Linked DNA regions of Homo sapiens: region 1 is linked to region 2. Evidence: fine-mapped expression QTL. Tissue or cell type: breast. Region 2 holds a variant in brackets; the other region holds the start of a gene. All regions are shown on one strand. Distances are from middle to middle.

Evidence for each region. PIP is the estimated chance that this variant, and not a neighbour inherited with it, causes the effect.
Region 1: it holds the start of TACR1, and the variant in region 2 is fine-mapped to the expression of TACR1 in breast (GTEx, PIP above 0.99). The same link has a PIP of 0.9 or more in esophagus mucosa and tibial nerve.

Annotation. Positions count from the first base shown.
Region 1 is chr2:75,193,682-75,203,309 of GRCh38, forward strand. It overlaps TACR1 (tachykinin receptor 1), which reads right to left and starts at 5,839. Exons shown (of 5, transcript NM_001058.4): 1 at 4,865-5,839. The coding sequence starts at 5,253. All of the region lies in intron 2 of TACR1-AS1 (TACR1 antisense RNA 1), which reads left to right.
Region 2 is chr2:75,150,600-75,160,227 of GRCh38, forward strand. The region is part of intron 1 of TACR1 (tachykinin receptor 1); the gene reads right to left. TACR1-AS1 (TACR1 antisense RNA 1) reads left to right here and starts at 3,719. Exons shown (of 4, transcript NR_168010.1): 1 at 3,719-3,972; 2 at 5,605-5,716. The variant T/C (reference allele first, on the strand shown) is at 4,666.

The DNA.
Region 1 (9,628 bases), 43 kb after region 2:
TCTTATCTAATCTTCAAGGCCTAACTCAGTTGCCCTATCTTGAGGTCTTCCTTGATCATTCATCACTGCTGGGCAGGATGTCCCTCCTCTTGTCTCCTATGGAATATATCTGTACAACCCATATGAAACATTTTACTTAATACCTTATATTTTAGTTACCTCTAAATCAGTCTTATTTGCCTTCATATATAGCCCTTTGAGGGAATAAACAAGGCTGTGAGTTAGGAAACCTCACCTTACCTTGATGGCATCAACACTTGATAGACTGAATATCTTTATCTAAGTTTGATGGTGTTTCTGTCTCATGATCCTCACTCTAATTCAGCAACAATAATAGTAACAGTGTCTTGTGCTTGTGCTATGTGCTTTTATTTTGAGAATTATTCTTTATTTGCCTCCAATTCAAACTATGATTTCTTCCAGTTTTTTAAAAAAGTAACACCCTTGACCATTCAGGACACTGCAGGCTCCCAGGAGTAGGGAGAGAGTGTGGCAAGTGTAACGGAGCAGCTCCAGAGAGGAGGTGGGCATTGGACCTCTTGAAGAAAGGCCCTGAAATCTAAATGACCCATCTGAGAATTAACAAACTCCATTTTGATCCACATCAATGCTGACATTGGAAAAGACAGGGCCAGTTGTGGCCAATGAGCTTCTAGTGAATGGCCATTCACAGCATCACAGCAGTGCATGGTAATGGGTTTCCAGGGCCATCCGAATTAGTGCAAAGGATCCTGGAATTTAATTCCCCCTCCAGGTGGGGTGAGGGAAGACTGCTCTGAGATAAACAATGAGATTGCAGTTCAACCAACAAGGTAAAGTTCAAGGATAGAGTGCAGGTCTAATAGAGACCTGGAAAGCAGGATATTTAAATTGGTAGCTGAGTATGGCTGGGACAGAGTGTGTAGACACGAGTTCAGTGGACAAAGTTTTTGTGATTTATTCATGTTTTTGTTCTAGGTTCCTCTTTTACATTATCAGCTCTCTCAGAGAGCTCAATTCCTCTTTTGCCTTCAACCATTACTCTCTCTGGGCAACTATATTTTTTGGTCTCAGAGAGACCATTTTATTTGGAGTCTGAGTGAGCAACTGCTACCTTTCATTTTGCTGAAATTATGCTTGCCCCTACCAGGTAGAGAAACAGTGATACCAGGCCAGTGCTTGTCTGGACCTCGCTGTTGCTCCTGTTGCTATGTGCATGGTTTCAAATCAGGTTATCTGTTGCCCATTCCCCAGCTCCCTGCAGGGCTTGGAGATTGCCTCCCTTCCTCTACTCCCTTCTTAGGTTCTGCTCCACAGTACTTGCCAGAGCATCATAATAGAACCAGTAATTGTCACCAACTCCTGAAAATGGGGGTTAGGGGAACGGGGCTGTTGAGGGGGGAGTCATCACCTCTCTGTGTCCCCCATCTTCAAATTTCATGAAACATCATACATACCTTTTAGTTTTATAGTTGTAAAGAATTTTTAAATTCTAAGTCAGAGAAATTATAGAGTTTCAATAGCTAAAATCCCTGGTATTTGTTGGAGTTTAGATAGAGGTAAACCTGATCTTATTTAGCTACATTTGTCTCTGAAACATTTTTAAATTCTAGGTAACTGCTGCCTTCAAAAAATAAAACTCTTTCTAATGGAGATATTTCTTCCCTCCCCTCCTCTCCTATCCCCTTCCCACCTCCCACTTTTCTTCCCTCTTCCCTCCTTCTCCTACCTTCCCTTCCTTTCCCCCCATCCCTTTTTTTCCTTCCCTGACCCCACCCCACCTTTCCTGTAGAAAGACTACAGGAAACATTTAAATTAGTACTGCAATCTGCAACTGAAGTTTTTCTCCGCATATATCTTGATTCTAATAGGAAATTTGACAAAGTTTACCAAGATAGTTTGACTCAACAATTCCTTTAAAAATCCTTTAAAATGAGAAGATATAGCTTTTTAAAAATTCATTTTATTTGATGTAGTAATTCTACTTATTGGGATCTATCTTAAGAAAATAATCAAGAAGGCAAAACAAAATTATCATATATAAATATTCCTTAGATTATTAATTATAATAGCAAAAATCTAGAAATCACCTAAATACACAACAGTAGAGAAATGACTACGTAAATAATAATAGCATATTCACATAATAGAATAGTATGAAGCCATTAAGATTATGTTTCTGAAAACTTTTGAATAACACAGGAAGGTGTTATTAAAGTCTTTCATTAATACCAATGGAAAAATATAGGCTACAAAATTATATAGAATCTAACCTCAATTATGTAGTATAATAGTCATAAAAGAGAAATTCAAAGGTTAGCAGGTGTTGCTTCTTGTCGGTTAGGTAAGGGGGATTGGATTTTTGTGCTCTTCATATTTCCCAAGTCTTCTGCAGTGAACAGGTTTAATTTTACAATCAGGAAAGCCACATTGCTGTTATTTTTAAAGACTTGATTCAAAGGTTGTCTGTTAAAAATTCAAGGAATATACAAACAGCTGATTTAATATTTCCTCTAAGTCTGCATTTCCATGCTGGAGAAAAGGGAGATAACTTACAGGGAGAGGACTTAAAGCCCCCTTTCTTTCCAATACATTCTTGGGAGAGAATGGATGACCACACATGCAGGAAATATATTCATTGGAAGGCCTGAGGGGGTGAGTTTATAGTGTGCTCACCAGGCTGAGCAAGAAAAAATAGAAGGAGCACTTGGCAGACATGGAGACAGAGACCTGAAGTCTCATCCCTAATTCTACCTTGAACTCTAATCTTAGGAATGCCATTGGTAACCTCCCTGGGCTGTATCTGCATGTTGGAAACATGGTGACATTCCCTGTCGCTGTCATTTCCTAAAGCTCTGGCATCCGAGACCTTTTGGTCTCACTGAGCAGGTATCACAGAGGGTCGGGGCTCTGCGGTGGTTTACCTAGAGAAAAACAACAACGGAGCTGAAATCTGGCTCCCTGCCCAATCCACTGTGCGGACTCTGACTCTCATCCCCACCCCTAACCTTCTAAGTTCCAGAGGAAAGATCAGGGCTGCAGAACATGTTTCTGTGTAAGCCAAAAGAGAGAGCTGTCTGCTGGTGCTCCATCAGCTACTGAATGCTCCAGCTCACACTGACTGACAGGTCTTCCTAGAGCTTGTGCAAAGCCCCAGTGCAGAAAAAGCAAACAAACAAACAAAACCCCCCAAAAAACTTGCCCTCTAATTTAGGGGGCATCAAGAGAGTGTTTGTAAGGCTGAACTGGCATCAGGTTTCACTACCCTGATATTCACTTATATATCATGCTATCGACTTTTTTAAGTTTAAGGAAGCTGTTATGAGATTAAAGGAGCATGTCAATGCAGAAAGATTTACAGGTGTACCTCACTTTCAGCAAACTGAATATCTGAAAACCAGTGTAGTACAAAAGATAAATTTGCAAAATAATTCATTTCACTCCCACTTTGAGTAATTGGTTTACCATCTACATTTAAAATACAAACTGATTTTCCACAATTTGTTTTACATAAAACATAGTAAGCACATAGGAGCTGCATATAGAGAGATGTACAGGGAACTAACAAATCAGTATTTGGACACCACTGCAAAGGATGGAAATGAAGATTTCCCTGATTTTAAAAGTGTTCATTGACTACAGGAGCTAAAAAAGACTTCTAATAATTTGCAAGTTATAAACAATCTTTATGCAAAGAGGGTTAGTAGTTTGGAATTTTTTTTGAAGTTTTCTCCTAGCTCCTTCTTTGGGTTTCTCACATTCAGTTATCTCAGGAAGGACATCAAAAGACTCCATTTTAAAATCACAGTGGTAGGTGTTTTAAGCATACTTTCACATCCCAGGTAAACATTTAACACCTGTGCACACATAGACATACACATTGGAGACCTAAGATACTCACAAAGGAGACAATACCAACAGAGCTGTGCTCCAATAATCAATTTTCCATCATGCTACCTGAAGAGCCATTCATTCCAGAATACCATCCCCAGTGTTTGAAATGCCAACCTTTTCACTTTCAGTCAGCTTTGGGAACCCTAACCTGTTGGTTGCCGGAACAGAAGAGCTCTCAAATGCCTTTGCCAAGCATGTTTCTCTGTGGATAGAGACAGGCTAAATACATACATTTTACATTGCAGGAGAAATTTAGAACACCTCTTGGGTAAGCTTCCTGGATCCCTATCCGTGGAGTTTCTTAAGGATAGCATAACTGTCTCTCATTCCTGAATGAGAATTCCTAGCATTACAGAGTAAACTGCATTAGAATTCTGAGTATCTTATGATACTGATGAAATGCTCTTTCACATCCAAAACAAACAAACAAACAAACACAAACCAACGAACCAACCAACCAAACAACAACAACAACTACAACAACAAACTGGAGAGTTGCAGTGGGAGCAGAAAGTCCCAGAATCCTCTAGGTGTACTTAAAACAGGAAGGCAACAAGAGGCTGTCTGACAGAAAAACAGGCCTGGAGGAATTTACAAAGCCCCTTCCAGGGTCTAGTCCTTTGACCAAACCCTAGGTATTGTTTGCAGCCTGCAAGGGTAAAGGGGAGAAGGAATATATGGAAAGGAGCAAAGCAGAAGTTGAAAGTGTCAGGAAGATGAGTGGAGAAGAGATGAAGAAAGGGGAGTTAAATGAAGAAAAGGGGGATGTGTGTTGAAAGGAAGAGAGAGAGTGATGGGTAAAAAAGAGGAAAAAAAGTTGAAATACATAAGATGAAGTTCCCCATCAACAAATGACTCAGTTGATCAGTAAAAAAACCCTCAGAGTGGCCAATCTTCCACTTGACCCATACCCCACCCAGTTCCAAACCTCACAGCAATGCCGTGGTCCTCTATGAGCACTTTCTCGCCTTTTCACAAAGGCTAATCTCACCTATCAAAGGCCACAGCCGTCATGGAGTAGATACTGGCGAAGACAGCGGCGATGGGAAAGAAGTTGTGGAACTTGCAGTAGAACAGGCCGTAGTACCATTCGTTGTGGACAGCATAGGTGAAGTTCACCACTGTATTGAATGCAGCCATGGAGGCCTCCGCGAAGGCCAGGTTCACCAGAAAATAGTTCGTCACTGTCCTCATTCTTTTGTGGGCTAAGATGATCCACATCACTACCACGTTGCCCACCACAGAGGTCACCACAATGACCGTGTAGGCAGCTGCCCAAAGGACAATTTGCCAGGCTGGTTGCACGAACTGATTGGGTTCCGAGGTGTTAGTGGAGATGTTTGGGGAGAGGTCTGAGTCCACCGGGAGGACGTTATCCATTTCGAAGCTAGGCGGTAAAGCCCTACTATCTGTACACAACCCCCCTCTGCAGCAGAGTCCTGTGGCTGGCGCCTGGGGCTCAGGGTCCTTCTAAAGCCAGACAGGAGGGTGGAAGGCTTTTTCTGGGCAGCACTCTTTTTGAAAGCTGAACTGGCGCTCAGAATATAAACGCTTCTGGATGCACTGCCCGCCTGCCCGCGGTGGCTCTGAATTCCTCCACTTTCAAGCTTCAGGAGACGTTTGAGTTCAGAAGTCTGGAGACAGCATCTCTCTTGCGGTAAACTGAAAAAGGGAAAGAAATTCCACCGGTCACAGTTCTAGGAAGCAAGAGATCCCCCGCATTTATGCACCTGCTGCTGCCTGCAACTCCTATTTCTCCTTCCTCCGCAGGGAAAGGCAAAGCCCTGTGCTGCGTGAGGACTTAGGAGCGAAGTGGGGGCCCATTGCAGCGCGACCTGTAAAAGTTCTGAGCCTATGGCCAGGATTCTGGAGCTTCGTATCCAGCTGGAGATTTTTCCTTCTCTTTTGCTGCCGCTGCCGCCGCCTGCAGTTTCGCGGGCACCTCTCGGTTCGGGTTGCTCAGCTCGCGAGTTAGCTGCGCACGAGGCTTTTATAACCCCCTGCAGAGACGTCACTGGGAAGGGGCAGTACCTGGGCTGCGTACTCGCCAGTCCCGGTGCGCAGCGCGGCAGCTGCGCCAGCTGTTGACAACTGTCTCATTCCACCGCCGCAGCTACCACGCCTTTTGCTGCTTGCTACTTGCCGTGGGAGTCTGCGAGCCGGGAGCCCCACGCACTCCGCGAGGGGGCAGTAGGTGGCTTGGAAGTAACTGACACAGATGCGGTCCGCAGCTGGAATCGTCGTTGCACGAGGGGTGCTGGGAGGAAGGAAGGATTTGGGAAACAGCTGGAGTGGAGGACAATCAACTTCCAGGGAATGAAGCCCAGAGCCCTGAGACAGCTCTGCAGAGGCGGCTTGCCTGTGGCAATGGGAAACGGTCATGTGTGGGGGCGATGTGCCAGCGCCGCGCTCCGGGCCGCGCTCCAGCTACCGAGAAGCCAGAGGCGACGACTCCCTGGTCCAGGTGTCCCGAAAACAACTTTCCTGAGGCTGTGTTTAGGAAACACCCCCACAAAATATCTAGCTCAGTTACCTGGCTAGCTGATTCACCTGGGAAGTGACAGTCTCTAAGCTTTGAGGACACTTTCCTCAGCCACCCTGGTGACTTGGCCCCTCGTTCCAGGAGAAGCTCCATTTGAGCCCTCCACCTGACCCCTCTGGATGAGCCTCTGCTCAATCACTGGGGACAGGGCTGAGCTCCCTGCGAATCTTGGTGAGCGCAGGAGCCACACTCATAGGCAGCTTGTCGCTCAGACGCGCGGCTCTGGGCTCTCCGCCAGCAATCACTGCGGCGCTGCGTTTGCCTCCCGGGGACCTGGCAGCCTCCGCCTCCGCGCCTGCCAAGCCTGCAGGCCAGAGCCGGGCTCGGGGTGGCATCGGTGGTCCTTCTCCCTGTTCCCCTTCCAGGTTTGCATAGGGGCTGGAGGACAGGTCAGCCAGCCTTCTCTGCCCGCCTCCATCCTGCCCTGCCGTCTTCTGACTTTGAGGCCTCGTATCCCAGTCCAAGACCATTTCAAACGGTAGAACTGGTGCCAGACACTTGGAGGAGGCAGGGCAAAGACTCGCCAGTCCGTATAAACCCTTTTGGAGAAGCCAAGATGGGATGAGCTCCGCAGCACGTTCCCGCCAGACTGCTGCAGGCAGAGTTCCGCGGAAAACTGAACCCCGGGAGTCCTCAGGGGCCCATCTACCCCGGTGCACCGCCCCCTCCTTTCACTGCGGGGACTCGGAGCTGTGGGACTGGAGCGCGCACCGGCAGACTTGCGCGCAGGTTGGAGTTGGCGCACACCCGCGCCAGCCGGGGAGCGGCGTTTACGCACTGGTACCGCGAGCGCTCAAAGCATCTCTCGGGAAGTGCTTTAAGGCTGGGAAATTTACTATACACTTATGCCGGGCAAAAATTGGATCCCACGCCGGGGAGGAGAATCTGCTGTTTCACTCTGTATTTTTTCGGAGCCTGGGATTTTAGCGTATATAGGAACCGCACATTGCTTTGCCAGGTTCTCCTAGGCACCCGTAAACACACTGCATAGAAAACTCTAGAGATGCTTTCAAGAGAACAGCGTCCCTTTATTTAGAGCGGCTGCACAAGAGGTCTTCTTTGTGGAAGGGAATGCCTCCTCCACCTTGGATCTCTGCTTGAGGCTTCCACCATCTCAAAGAGCTGACAGAGAGAGGGAGGAAAAGGGAGAGGGAAGGGGATGCGGAGGGTGGGGGAGGGGGGAGGGGAAACTTCTCTATCTTTAATTTTCCTTCCAAGCTGTTTAAAGTTATCTTTTCTTTTTTCTCCCTGTCCATTAGAGCCAGGCTGACGTTTTCAAAAGGAACTTTATTCAGTGGTTAAGGGAGAAAAAGAAAGCTAATCGAATAAAATCTAAATATGTAATAAGAGCTAAATATAAAATAAATATGAAATAGCTAAAAAGTAAACATTAATCCATTTATCCTCCATTAGTACAGCAAGTTGATATTTTGAAGCAGGTACTGTGCTGGGCACTGGGGCTGGGGGGTGAACAAGCACTTACAGTATGGAGGAAGACAAACAAGAAGCAATGAACCATACAAAATGGGCGGTATTATGATGACCAAAGGTACTAAGCCCTGAGTGAGGAGAGAAGAGGGAGGCCACCTAACCTAAACAATGAGGGGTATCCGTACAGATGGAAGAAAATCTCATCCATGAAGAAGCCTGAAGAATGAGTTAGGATGGGAAGAGGTTGAGGGTGGAAAAAAGGCGAATATTTCAGGCTGAAGTTTTATAAATCAAACCTTGTCACTCTGCTTAAAGTCCCATAATGACTGCCCACCTATGAGCCTGCAGGTCAGAGCGGGGCCCTGGGTGGCATCAGGGGTTCTTCTCCCTGCTCACCTTCCAGGTTTGCATAGGGACTGGAGCGCAGGTCAGCCCGCCTTCTCTCCCTGCCTCCATCCTGCCTAGCCCTCGGCTAACTTTGAGGCTTTGTATGCCAGTCCAAAGCCACCTCAAATGGTGGAACTGGTGCCAGGCACTGGGACACCTACGTTCCTTACCCTGGCCTTCAACTCTGATGTGTTGATGAGTCTGACTTGGGGTTGTTTTTCTTTCTACTCCGGGATTTTCATGGCTGGTAGCCATATCTTAGGAATCCTTATGACTTGCTAAAGCTAGTTTCTCTTCTTAAAAAGAAAAAGCATATTCATGATGGGTTCACCATTGAGGAAAAAAAAAAGCCTCAGCTATACAGTAGCAGAAGTTGTTTTTGGTTCATACCTATGATATGAGGAGACACTTTATCTAGCATCACCCATCTATAAAGTAATGAATTTTCCCCCTACAGCTTTGCACAAATATATAGATAAAATTCTATACATGCTATTTCCCTCCAAGAGCTGATATTCTTGTTTTCTTATCCTTTTTCCCCCTTCGTTCCTCTTTTCACTGAACATCTTCCTTGACACTCAACACAGGATCACACATCTTAAAGTAAACGCTGTTAACAATGTAGTATAAATCCTTCCTTATTTGTCCAGACTCTTTGATACTATCTAGATGGAAATACAAACATACATAATATTCACACATGTAAATGCAAATATAGGACTTTCATTGTTGTCTGTATTTTGTTTTTCCCACTCTAAACTTTGCCCAGCTGTTTCAGAGTCAACAGGTATAGATTTAACTCATTTTTCAGTGGTTAAATATTATTTCTATGTTATGGATACACCGTAATTTATACATTCAATTCTCTATTCATGAAAATTAACTTTGTTTCCAGTTTTTGTCACTAAAGGCAATTAACAATAAACATTCTCTACATCCTGGTGTTTTCTTTCTATGGGGGTAGATTCAAAGTGGAATTGCTGGGAAGTAGATTATATTTATATTCCTATGCATATGCATATATATGTTGTGAGTTTCTATTCATATTTGTTTATTTTTAAAAGTTTTAAATAAAGTTTTGTTTCTTTGAATTATTTCCTATATTTTATACAAATAACTAAGAGTCTATACCAACTTCATGTATTACTTTTTAAAGCGAAAACATGAATTATTTGCAATTTGCCCATATATTTGCACATACACAGACACCAGCATGGTTTTTAAAAAACTTTTATTTTGGGTTCAGGAGTAACGTGCAGGTTTGTTATATAGATAAATTTTGTGTCACAGGGGTTTGGTGGACAGATTATTTTGTCACCCAGGTAATAAACTTAGTATCTGATAGGTAGTTTTTTGATCCTCACCCTCCTCCCACCCTCCAGCCACAAGTAGGGC
Region 2 (9,628 bases):
CCAATTAAACTTCTTTTTCTTCCCAGTCTTGGGTATGTTTTTTATAAGCAGTGTGAAAACAAACAAATACAATAAACTGGTACCAGTAGAGTGGGGCATTGCTGAAAAGATACCTGAAAATGTGGAAGCGACTTTGGAACTGGGTAACAGGTAGAGATTGGAATAGTTTGGGAGGGCTCAGAAGAAGACAGAAAAATGTGGGAAAGTTTGGAACTTCCTAGAGACTTGTTGAATGGTTTTGCCCAAAATGTTGATAGCAATATGGACAATAAAATCCAGGCTAAGGTGGTCTCAGATGGAGATGAGGAACTTGTTGGGAACTGGAGCAAAGGTGACTCTTGTTATGTTTTAGCAAAGAGATTGGTGGCATTTTGCCCCTGCCCTAGAGATTTGTGGAACTTTGAACTTGAAAGAGCTGATTTAGGGTATCTGGCAGAAGAAATTTCTAAGCAGCAAAGTAATCAAGAGGTGACTTGGATGCTGTTAAAGGCATTCAGTTTTATAAGGGAAGCAGAGCATAAAAGTTTGGAAAATTTGTAGTCTGACTATGCGATAGAAAAGAAAAACTCATTTTCTGGGGAGAAATTCAAGCTGGCTGCAGAAGTTTGCATAAGTAGCAGGGAGCCTAATGTTAATCCCCAAGACCATGGGGAAAATGTCTCCAGGTCATGTCAGAGACCTTCATGGCAGCCCCTCCGATCACAGGCCCAGAGGCCCAGAAGGAAAAAGTGTTTTTGTGGATCTGGCCCAGGGTCCCTGTGCTGTGTGTAGCCTAGGGACTTGGTGCCCTGTGTCCCAGCCACTCCAGCTGTGGCTGAAAGGGGCCAATGTACAGCTTGGGCTGTGACTTCAGAGGATGCAAGCCCCAAGCCTTGGCAGCTTCCACATGGTGTTGAGCCTGCAGGTGCACAGAAGTCAAGAATTGAGATTTGGGAACCTTTGCCTAGATTTAGGAAGACGTATGGAAGTACCTGGATGCCCAGTCAAAAGTTTGCTGCAGGGGTGGGGCCCTCATGGAGAAACTCTGCTAGGGCAGTGTGGAAGGGAAATGTGGGGTTGGAGCCCCCACACAGAGTTCCTACTGGGACACTGCCTAGTGGAGCTGTGAGAAGAGGGCCACCATCCTCCAGACCCCAGAATAGCAGATGCACCAACAGCTTGCACCATGTACCTGGAAAAGGCTGTAGACACTCAACACCAGCCTGTGAAAGTAGCTGGGAGGGAGGCTGTACCCTGCAAAGCCACAGGCATGGAGCTGCCCAAGACCATGGGAACCTACCTCTTGCATCACTGTGACCTCGATGTGAGACCTGGAGTCAAAGGAGATCATTCTGGAACTTTAAAATTTGACTGCCCATTGGATTTCAGACTTGCATGAGCCCTGTATTGTTTTGGCCAATTTCTCCCGTTTGGAATGGCTGTATTTACCCAATATCTGTACCCCCATTGTGTCTAGGCAGTAACTAGCTTGCTTTTGATTTTACAGGATCATAGGTGGAAGGGACTTGTCTTGCCTCAGATGAGACTTCGGACTGTGGGTTAATGGGTTAATGATGAAATGAGTTAAGACTTTGGGGGACTGTTGGAAATGCATGATTGGTTTTGAAATGTGAGAACATGAGATCTGTAGGGCCCAGGGGCTGAATGATATGGTTTGGCTGTTTCCCTACCCAAACCTCAATTTGATTTGTATCTCCCATAATTCCCACGTGTTGTGGGAGGAACCCAGGGGGAGGTAATTGAATCATGGGGGCCAGTGTTTCCCATGCTGTTCTCATGATAGTGAATAAGTCTCATGAGATCTGATGGTTTTATCAGGGGTTTCTGCTTTTGCTTCTTCCTCATTTTCTTTTGCCGCTGCCAAGTAAGAAGTGTCTTTCACCTCCCCCCATGATCCTGAGGTCTCCTAGCCATGTGGAGCTGTAAGTCCAATTAAACTTCTTTTTCTTCCCAGTCTCAGTTATGTCTTTATCAGAAGTGTGAAAATGGACTAATACATGCTCCGAGGCTGAGAGTTAAAGTGTCAGATGTCTGATTCCTTCTAAATCTGAAAACAGGAAGCTTAACAGTTGGTACATAGTAGATGCTCAATTAATGCTTAATAAATGATTGATAAATATCACTAAACAGGTGTATAGATCACAGCTCTCTTAGTCACCCCAATGCATTCCCATTAGAGAAATTCACTGCTAAGGGGTTGTTCCTTAGGAGAATAGACTGTACACCTCACTCTACCATTTCTAGTGGGTGGATCAAAGGCTATTAATTCCAAAGAAAGATGGGGCCAAGACTTCTTTTTTGTTTGTTTGTTTGGTATTTTGTGAGACGGAGTCTCATTCTGTCACCAGGCTGGAGTGCAGTAGCGCAATCTCGGCTCACTGCAACCTCTGCCTCCTGGGTTCCAGTGATTCTCCTGTTTCAGTTTCCCGAGTAGTGGGACTACAGGCGTGCACCACCACGCCTGGCTAATTTTTGTATTTTTTAGTAGAGATGGGGTTTCACTATATTGGCCAGGCTAGTCTTGAACTCCTGACTTTGTGATCTGCCCACCTTGGCCTCCCAAATTGCTGGGATTACAGGCGTGAGCCACTGCACCAGCCTAAGACTTCTTATAAGAGTTCTTTTAGGCAAAAGCTCAGCAGAGGGCAGGGTAGGAACAATACACAATCACCTTGACTGAGTCTAACAAGATGCTATGGCAAGAAAGCACAGGAATTGTCAGAAATCTTTTCTGAAGGCATCCAAGCCTCAGTGGGATGTTATGAAAGACTGCTTCTCAGAAGATAGTCCTGACACCTAAGTGGGTGACTGAGCTAGAACCAGCTACTCACTTGCTGAGAATTATTGACCTCTCTTGTGAAATGTCAATATTGACTGACTGCACTCTGAGCTGTGCTGTTAAAGGCGTTCAGTTTTACAAGGGAAGCAGAGCATAAGGTCTGATGTCTCTTCCAGATCTGATGACCTAAGATTTGTTTATAGGATCAGGAAAAAAACCCATTAAAATACATCTCTTAATTCTTAGAGTATTATTGAAATTGTGTACAACTTGGAGAGAAGCAATGGCAAAACTTCTGAAATTCACCTGGCACATTCCCTGTTTCCTTCCATGTGGCTGCTAACCCTTTTAAGTTGTGAAGACAGAGGATCCAGGTGGACCAACCAGGGATGCAAAAGGGAGGAGGTGGTTTTAACTCCTGTGTGCAAGGATTTAATTCCTCACGTATCCTCTCTTCCTATTCAAGCTAATTCCAGGTCATCAGTGTACTCTAAGTATTCTAATCAGATTCATTAAATTTTTTTTCCTGGAATCACTGATGGTGGGCAGCACTATTGAGCTTTATTCAGGGTGTGGGACTGAGGTCTCTCCATGAGGCCATTCACTTTTGATAAGGAAACTGGCCTCACTATAGGAGTTCAGTAAAGGCCCAGCTTGCTGGCTCACTGATTAATTGAAGGGCGGGGGTGTGGGGCTTGCTGTGCACAACTAAAGTTCACTTGGATGCCCCCCTCACTGCCCAAAGCAATGCTTGGCCTACAGGAAGCTGAGCCTGCTGCTGCCTTCCTCCCGGCTCCTGGCTCCCTCGGGATCTGAACACTCAGGGTCATGCTGTTGCTGCCCAAGCAGGAAAATCCTGTTTCTGAAAATCCCAAACAACAAACAGCTCCCCTACAGAGCTCATGGGGGAGTAGTCAGAACCTCCAGACTGAGCATGTCACAAGGAAGGACTGCTTTGCTGAAGCCACTCACTCCGGGAGATTTATAATTGGAAGTTTGGCCCAGGGAGATAATCAGCCAAGAGCGCGCACGCACACACACACACACACACACACACACACACACACACACACTCTGAAGAAACCCAGTGGAGATTCAGCACTAACCCACCACACACACACACACACACACACACACACACACACACACTCTCTGAAGAAACCCAGTGGAGATTCAGCACTAACCCAGCACAGGTGAGTGAGAAATTACAACCTGTCAGCCAATGAGCCATGGTGATTCCCTCTGAAGAGGGTTTCCCAGCTATCATTCCCTTTCATCCCCACTGTAAGTTAGGCCCTCGTGCATGTTGCCTGGACTGTGGCTGGAGTCTCCTAACTGTCTTGTCTTCTCTGGGTTTTCTGGCCCCAGGTCTCTCCCTGTCTATCTACCCTGCATCCCTGCTGCTGTTGGAAGAGTCCCCTAAAAGACCTTCTCCACAGCACTGCTTAGCTCCTGGTACTCCCTTATCCCTCCTTTCGGCCCATCCTCTGCCACTGGCTTCCAAGTTCGCATTTGGCCTGCTCCCTACCTCAGTCCTGGGCAGTGAGGCAGGAAGCTGCCTTTCTCCTCCAGATGAGTCTGTGCTCTGCCTCTCTCCTTTGCGTCTCCAAATTCACACTGAGCATGAACATCTCTGACCTCACCTTTTCAAACCAAATGAAAGGGCTGCATAAGGACAACTTAGTTTATTTTGGAAGGCTGTTACACTTTGACCTCCATTTAAAAAACAAACAAAAAAATCTAAAAACCCCAAAACGTTGAGGGACTGTTCCCAAGCCCCAGCATCTTTGCCCCATCCTCAAGCCTTCCAGGACCCTCTCTCCATTCTTGGGATTGCAGCTCCTAACGTAGTTCTCCTCTTCAGCTCAAGGACAATTCTAACTGTC[T/C]TCTTGCCTGGTATGGCTTAATGAGCCTCAAGCTCACTTAGCATCATCTGGATTTAATTTCCTCTCTTGCCGTGAGCAACCTTGGCTCATCTTTCTGCCTCTCTTCTCCTCTCCTCTTTTTCCTGTCTCCCCCTCCCTTTGCTTACATGCCCTTCTTCCCCCTTTCTCTCCTCTCTCTATCTCTACCTCTCTAATGTCCACAAGTGCCTCACAACTGCCCCATTCAACCCCCACCTGAGTATCACCAGCTCTTCTGGTCCAGCTCACCTGTAAAATCTCTATTCCATCCAGAGAGGCCACCATCTCCTGTTCTAAGGGTCACATAGCTCAGATACAGACAAACAAGGTCAGGACAACCACCCTCCTGCCTTGGAAAATCACCAATTACCCTCCATTATTATATTTCTTGTGAAGCTACATTTACATTTTATCATATCCACATAACAAGAGAGAGAGTTTTAAAAAGGAGAGTGGTCAAATGTATGTCAAGAGACATAGAAACACTTAGAATAATGTAGACAGAACAGATAGCTGGAGTTATTAGAAGGTTATTGGAGACCATCAAAAAGGAATCAAGATGGTTTAGGATATATTCTATTATTCTAACTCAGGATTGGTAAATTATGGCCCATAGGCCAAAGCTGGCCTGCTGCCTATTTTTTTATATGGCTTCTGAGTGAAGAACAATTTTTACATTTTTAAATGATTGAAAAAAATAAAAAGAAGACTATTTCACAAGTAAAAATTCTATGAAATTCAAATTTCAGTGTCCATAAGTTAAGATATCCTGGAACACAGTCACACTATTTGTTTACATATTGTCTATGGCTGCTTTTGTGCTATAACACAGAGTTGAATAGTGTGACAAATATCATATTGTGCATACAAATTATTGTGGTGGGTCCTCGATATGATAACAAGTATTCTTGTAAGCGATAGAAGAGGAGAAGAGACATACAGAGGACAAGGCCATGTCACAACAAGTGGAGACTGGAATTATGCAGCCACAAGCCAAGGAACCTCTGGAACCACCAGAAGCTGGAAATGGCAGGTAAGAATTTACCCAAGAGGCCGGGCGCGGTGGCTCATGCCTGTAATCCCAGCACTTTGGGAGGCCAGGGCGGGCGGATCACAAGGTCAGGAGACCGAGACCATCCTTACCAAAAATACAAAAAAAAAAAAAAAAAAATTAGCCGGGCATGGTGGCAGGCCCCTGTGGTCCCAGCTACTCAGGAGGCTGAGGCAGGAGAATGGTGTGAACCTGGGAGGCAGAGCTTGCAGTGAGTGGAGATCATGCCACTGCCCTCCAGCCTGGGTAACAGAGCGAGACTCCGTCTCAAAAAAAAAAAAAAAAAAAGAAAGAATTCTACCCAAGAGTGTCTGGAGGCAGCACAGCCCTTCCAACACCTCGATTTTGGACTTCTGGTCTACATAACAGTGAGAAAATAATTTTCTTTTGTTTCAAGCCACCCAGTTTGTGGTAATTTGTTATAGCAGCCCTAGGAAATGAATATACTGGTCTTTCATACAAAGTTTACCAACCCCTGTTTCAATCTGTCTTTCTACATTGGATTTGGGTATGCTCATTAGTGTCTAGTTTTCTTCTAAATGAAGTAAAGAGATAGTGAAATGTAGGGATACACTGCATTTCCATTAAAATGACTAAGAGAATGAGAAAGAATGCTCAGCACTATGAAGCTGACAGCTCTTCTCCTCCCATGATGGAGATGGGAGTCGGGGCTGGGTGCTCCATCCATTTCTCCAAAGGACTCATGTCTCCCATGCATTCCAGCTGCTGACCTGGATCAATGGTTTTCAGAAACAGAGGCTAGAAGGGATTATCTCATCAGCTTGTATTCAGGTCTGTGGTAGTGGCAGGGCAGGGGTTGGGGGATTGATAAGGAGGAGGATGAAGAAGGAAAGGCACCACCGTGGAGCAAACTGGTAACTGAGACTTGGAGGAAAGCTAGACCCTTCTCCTCCAAGTCTAAACAAATTCCCTTTCCTTTCATTTTCCTTACTACCATCTGCCCACTGTAGTCCTCCTCACCCACCTATGGAAGCAAGGCTTACCCAGTGACTTTGGGTAGGTACTCAAGCTTCTCTTTCCTACTCTCCCAAAAGAGAGGACTCAGGTCCTGACAAACAAGCATCATAACGACCTACGAAGACAGGATTTGACATAGGAAAATCAGAGCTTGCATTGTTAAGAGTTAAGAAGGGGGATTGTACCCACCTTGTTCCTCCACCTGTTCACAAACAATGTGTCAAAGAAGGGGCAGGTAAGTGGCCAGGCAGCCCTGAAATAGCCTGGGGCCAGGACTGTGACAAATACTCACTGGGAACATCCCCCACCTAAGGGTTGAAGTCAGGAAGAGGAGTGCCCTGTCCTTACACTAGATGGAACTGTTCCTCTATAAAAAAGAAGAAGAAATAAAACCTGATACATGTATTAATCTTATTCAGGGAGATGTGGGTTTTAAGCAATTCAAATATTTCATTCTGTTCTTTCAGTTCTGCCTACTGGCCATTATCAGGAAGATGTGGGAAATAGACTGAAAGAAAATCTTCTGATTATTGAAAGAGAATTTACAGCAGCAAAACAATTTGCAGTGTTTCTACCTAGAGACAGGGAAGTAAGAGAATCTGAGTCCAAGTCCCCACCAAAAAGAGCTTTAGTTTAGAGCCTGTTTCTCAAGAAACTTGCATATGCACACATGAGTTTGGGAAATTCTCATTATTACCTCATAGGTTAGGTCTAAACCTTATTTTAAGACTGAGAAATGGAAACCTAGCTGTGTGAAGAATGCATCAAAGATCATAGAGATGGTTAAGGGCAAAGAGAATACAAGACTCCAACTATGACCCAACTGGGTCCTCCAACACTTTTTACTATCTTTGGATCTGATTCACTTCGGGTAAATGTCTCCTGAGATCTTCCTATGGACGAAGATCGAGCATTTATCGGAAAAGCATTACTCTAGGCAACTATGTAATCAGTAGAATTTTAATTTGACCAAGTGGACATGGAGAGATTTCCACAGCTTATTAACTTTCCCTTGCTCTCTGCCTTTTTCCCAGGCAGAAAATGCATATTATGTATTCCCAGTGTCTGGCTTAATAAGAGGGATTATTATAAAAGGCAGCAATAGGACATCTATTTTCTAAAATATCAAAAAATATGTATTTATTTTGATAAACAGCAAAAATTAAAATGGTCCTGGGGGAAGAGTGCTCTATCGCAGGCCTCAGGCAAAGTTCTAACCTTAGAATCTGTTAGTAGTTAGCAGCAGGGTTAAAAGTTGTTTTTATCAGCTCTGGGTGATTGCCATATATTTTCATCAATTAATTTTTGTTGAAATGCCTGCTGAATATGTGATGTTGCATAGGGAGACAGCTGAATGTTTGCAACATAATCTAATTTGGCAGCTGGGACCTGAAAGCTGAGTATTCCTCAAATCAATATGCCCAGCATCGCAAAGGAAGCAGAACTGAAAAGAGAGGAATGGGTGGTTGGGTGAGATGCTTGCAATGTGGTGATTTAGCTGGAGTTGGGCCTCTGTTCCGAACTCAAACGGTCCCATGTCCCAGGCCTGGCTCTGCCACCAACCAGCTGTGCAGCTTCCAGCAAGTTATCTCAACCTCGAGCATCTGCTTCTTCATCTGTAAATGGAGCTAGTAATTGTACCAACTTTGGAAGACTGTTGTGTTAAGTGCTTTAGAAGTATTATCTCATTTAATTCTTACTACAACCACTACCTGGTAAAATAATTTTTTATTGGTACCTTTTTTTTTTAATGTTTTAGAGAGATAAACAATGTAGCTAATTTTGTAGGAAAGGCCAAAGTAGCTAATTTTGTAGGGGACCTGATTTTTAGTCCAGCTTGGCTGGCAACTAATTTTAGGTCTGTAAAGGTTCAGAAAGTATATCCTGAACACAAGCCCTCCTCAGTTACGTTATTTAAAGTGTTAAATACTCAAGCCAACCGAAACACAAACCAAAGTAAAGAATTTAGATAAGAAAGACATGTGAAAAGGAGGCTACTGGTAAGTACAGAACTCAGTTAAATGTAAATAATTATGAATTAATTGTATTATCTTTTTATTTAAAAATCTAATAAATTCTGATTTTTCTCTCCCCAACTTCCTGTGATATAACTAAGAAAAAACAAAGAGAAACTAGTTTCTGTAAAACTGGAAACTCCGAGAATTCCTCAGTGATATGCCAGGAAACAGGAAGAATTTCCACTAGCCAAAGTTCTGAGGAAGTTACAGGCAGGAAAAAAGATAAGGGTTACCATCTTTTTTTAGTCAATAAAGCTATGCCCACTCTAGGTACTTTCCTTAGAAACATGGAGTCTTCCCAGCAGAGAAAGGAAAGCTAGCCCCAATTTGACTTCTAGAATAATAGAGCCATTTTGACCACACTTTCCCTAATATTAGTTACTGTTTTCTTGCACTGGCTTGAGGCTACAATTACCCATAAAATGTTGTGTGACTAGGAGTGCTTATACCTAGAGGGTCTGGGTGGCAGTTAAAAAGAGCTGAGTCTGACAGAGTCGTAGTGCATTCTGGGAGTTATATTGAATCCTGGAGAAACTATTTACCGAGCATTTACTACATGTCAATAGAGGTACCATTCGCTGGATCAGGCACATAAAGAATTGGGAAGAAGGTCTGACTCTACAGGAATCAATACCACTCATGAAAAGATAGGCAGTGGGACTGGATATCTCCCCATGGCAATATATTCACACTACATACAAGACTTTAAGACAGCAAAAGATGGGCTGGAAAGTAAGAATATCAAACAACACTTGTTCATAAGAGAAGTGAACCAGCAGAGAAAAGAGAAAAGAATTGTACCAGCAGTTATGTGGATAGCCAGGGGAACAAAATTAAAAACATACATTGGGAGTTTTGGGAGTTTACAGGAAAATCTCTCCTGAGCAGACCTTTGCAC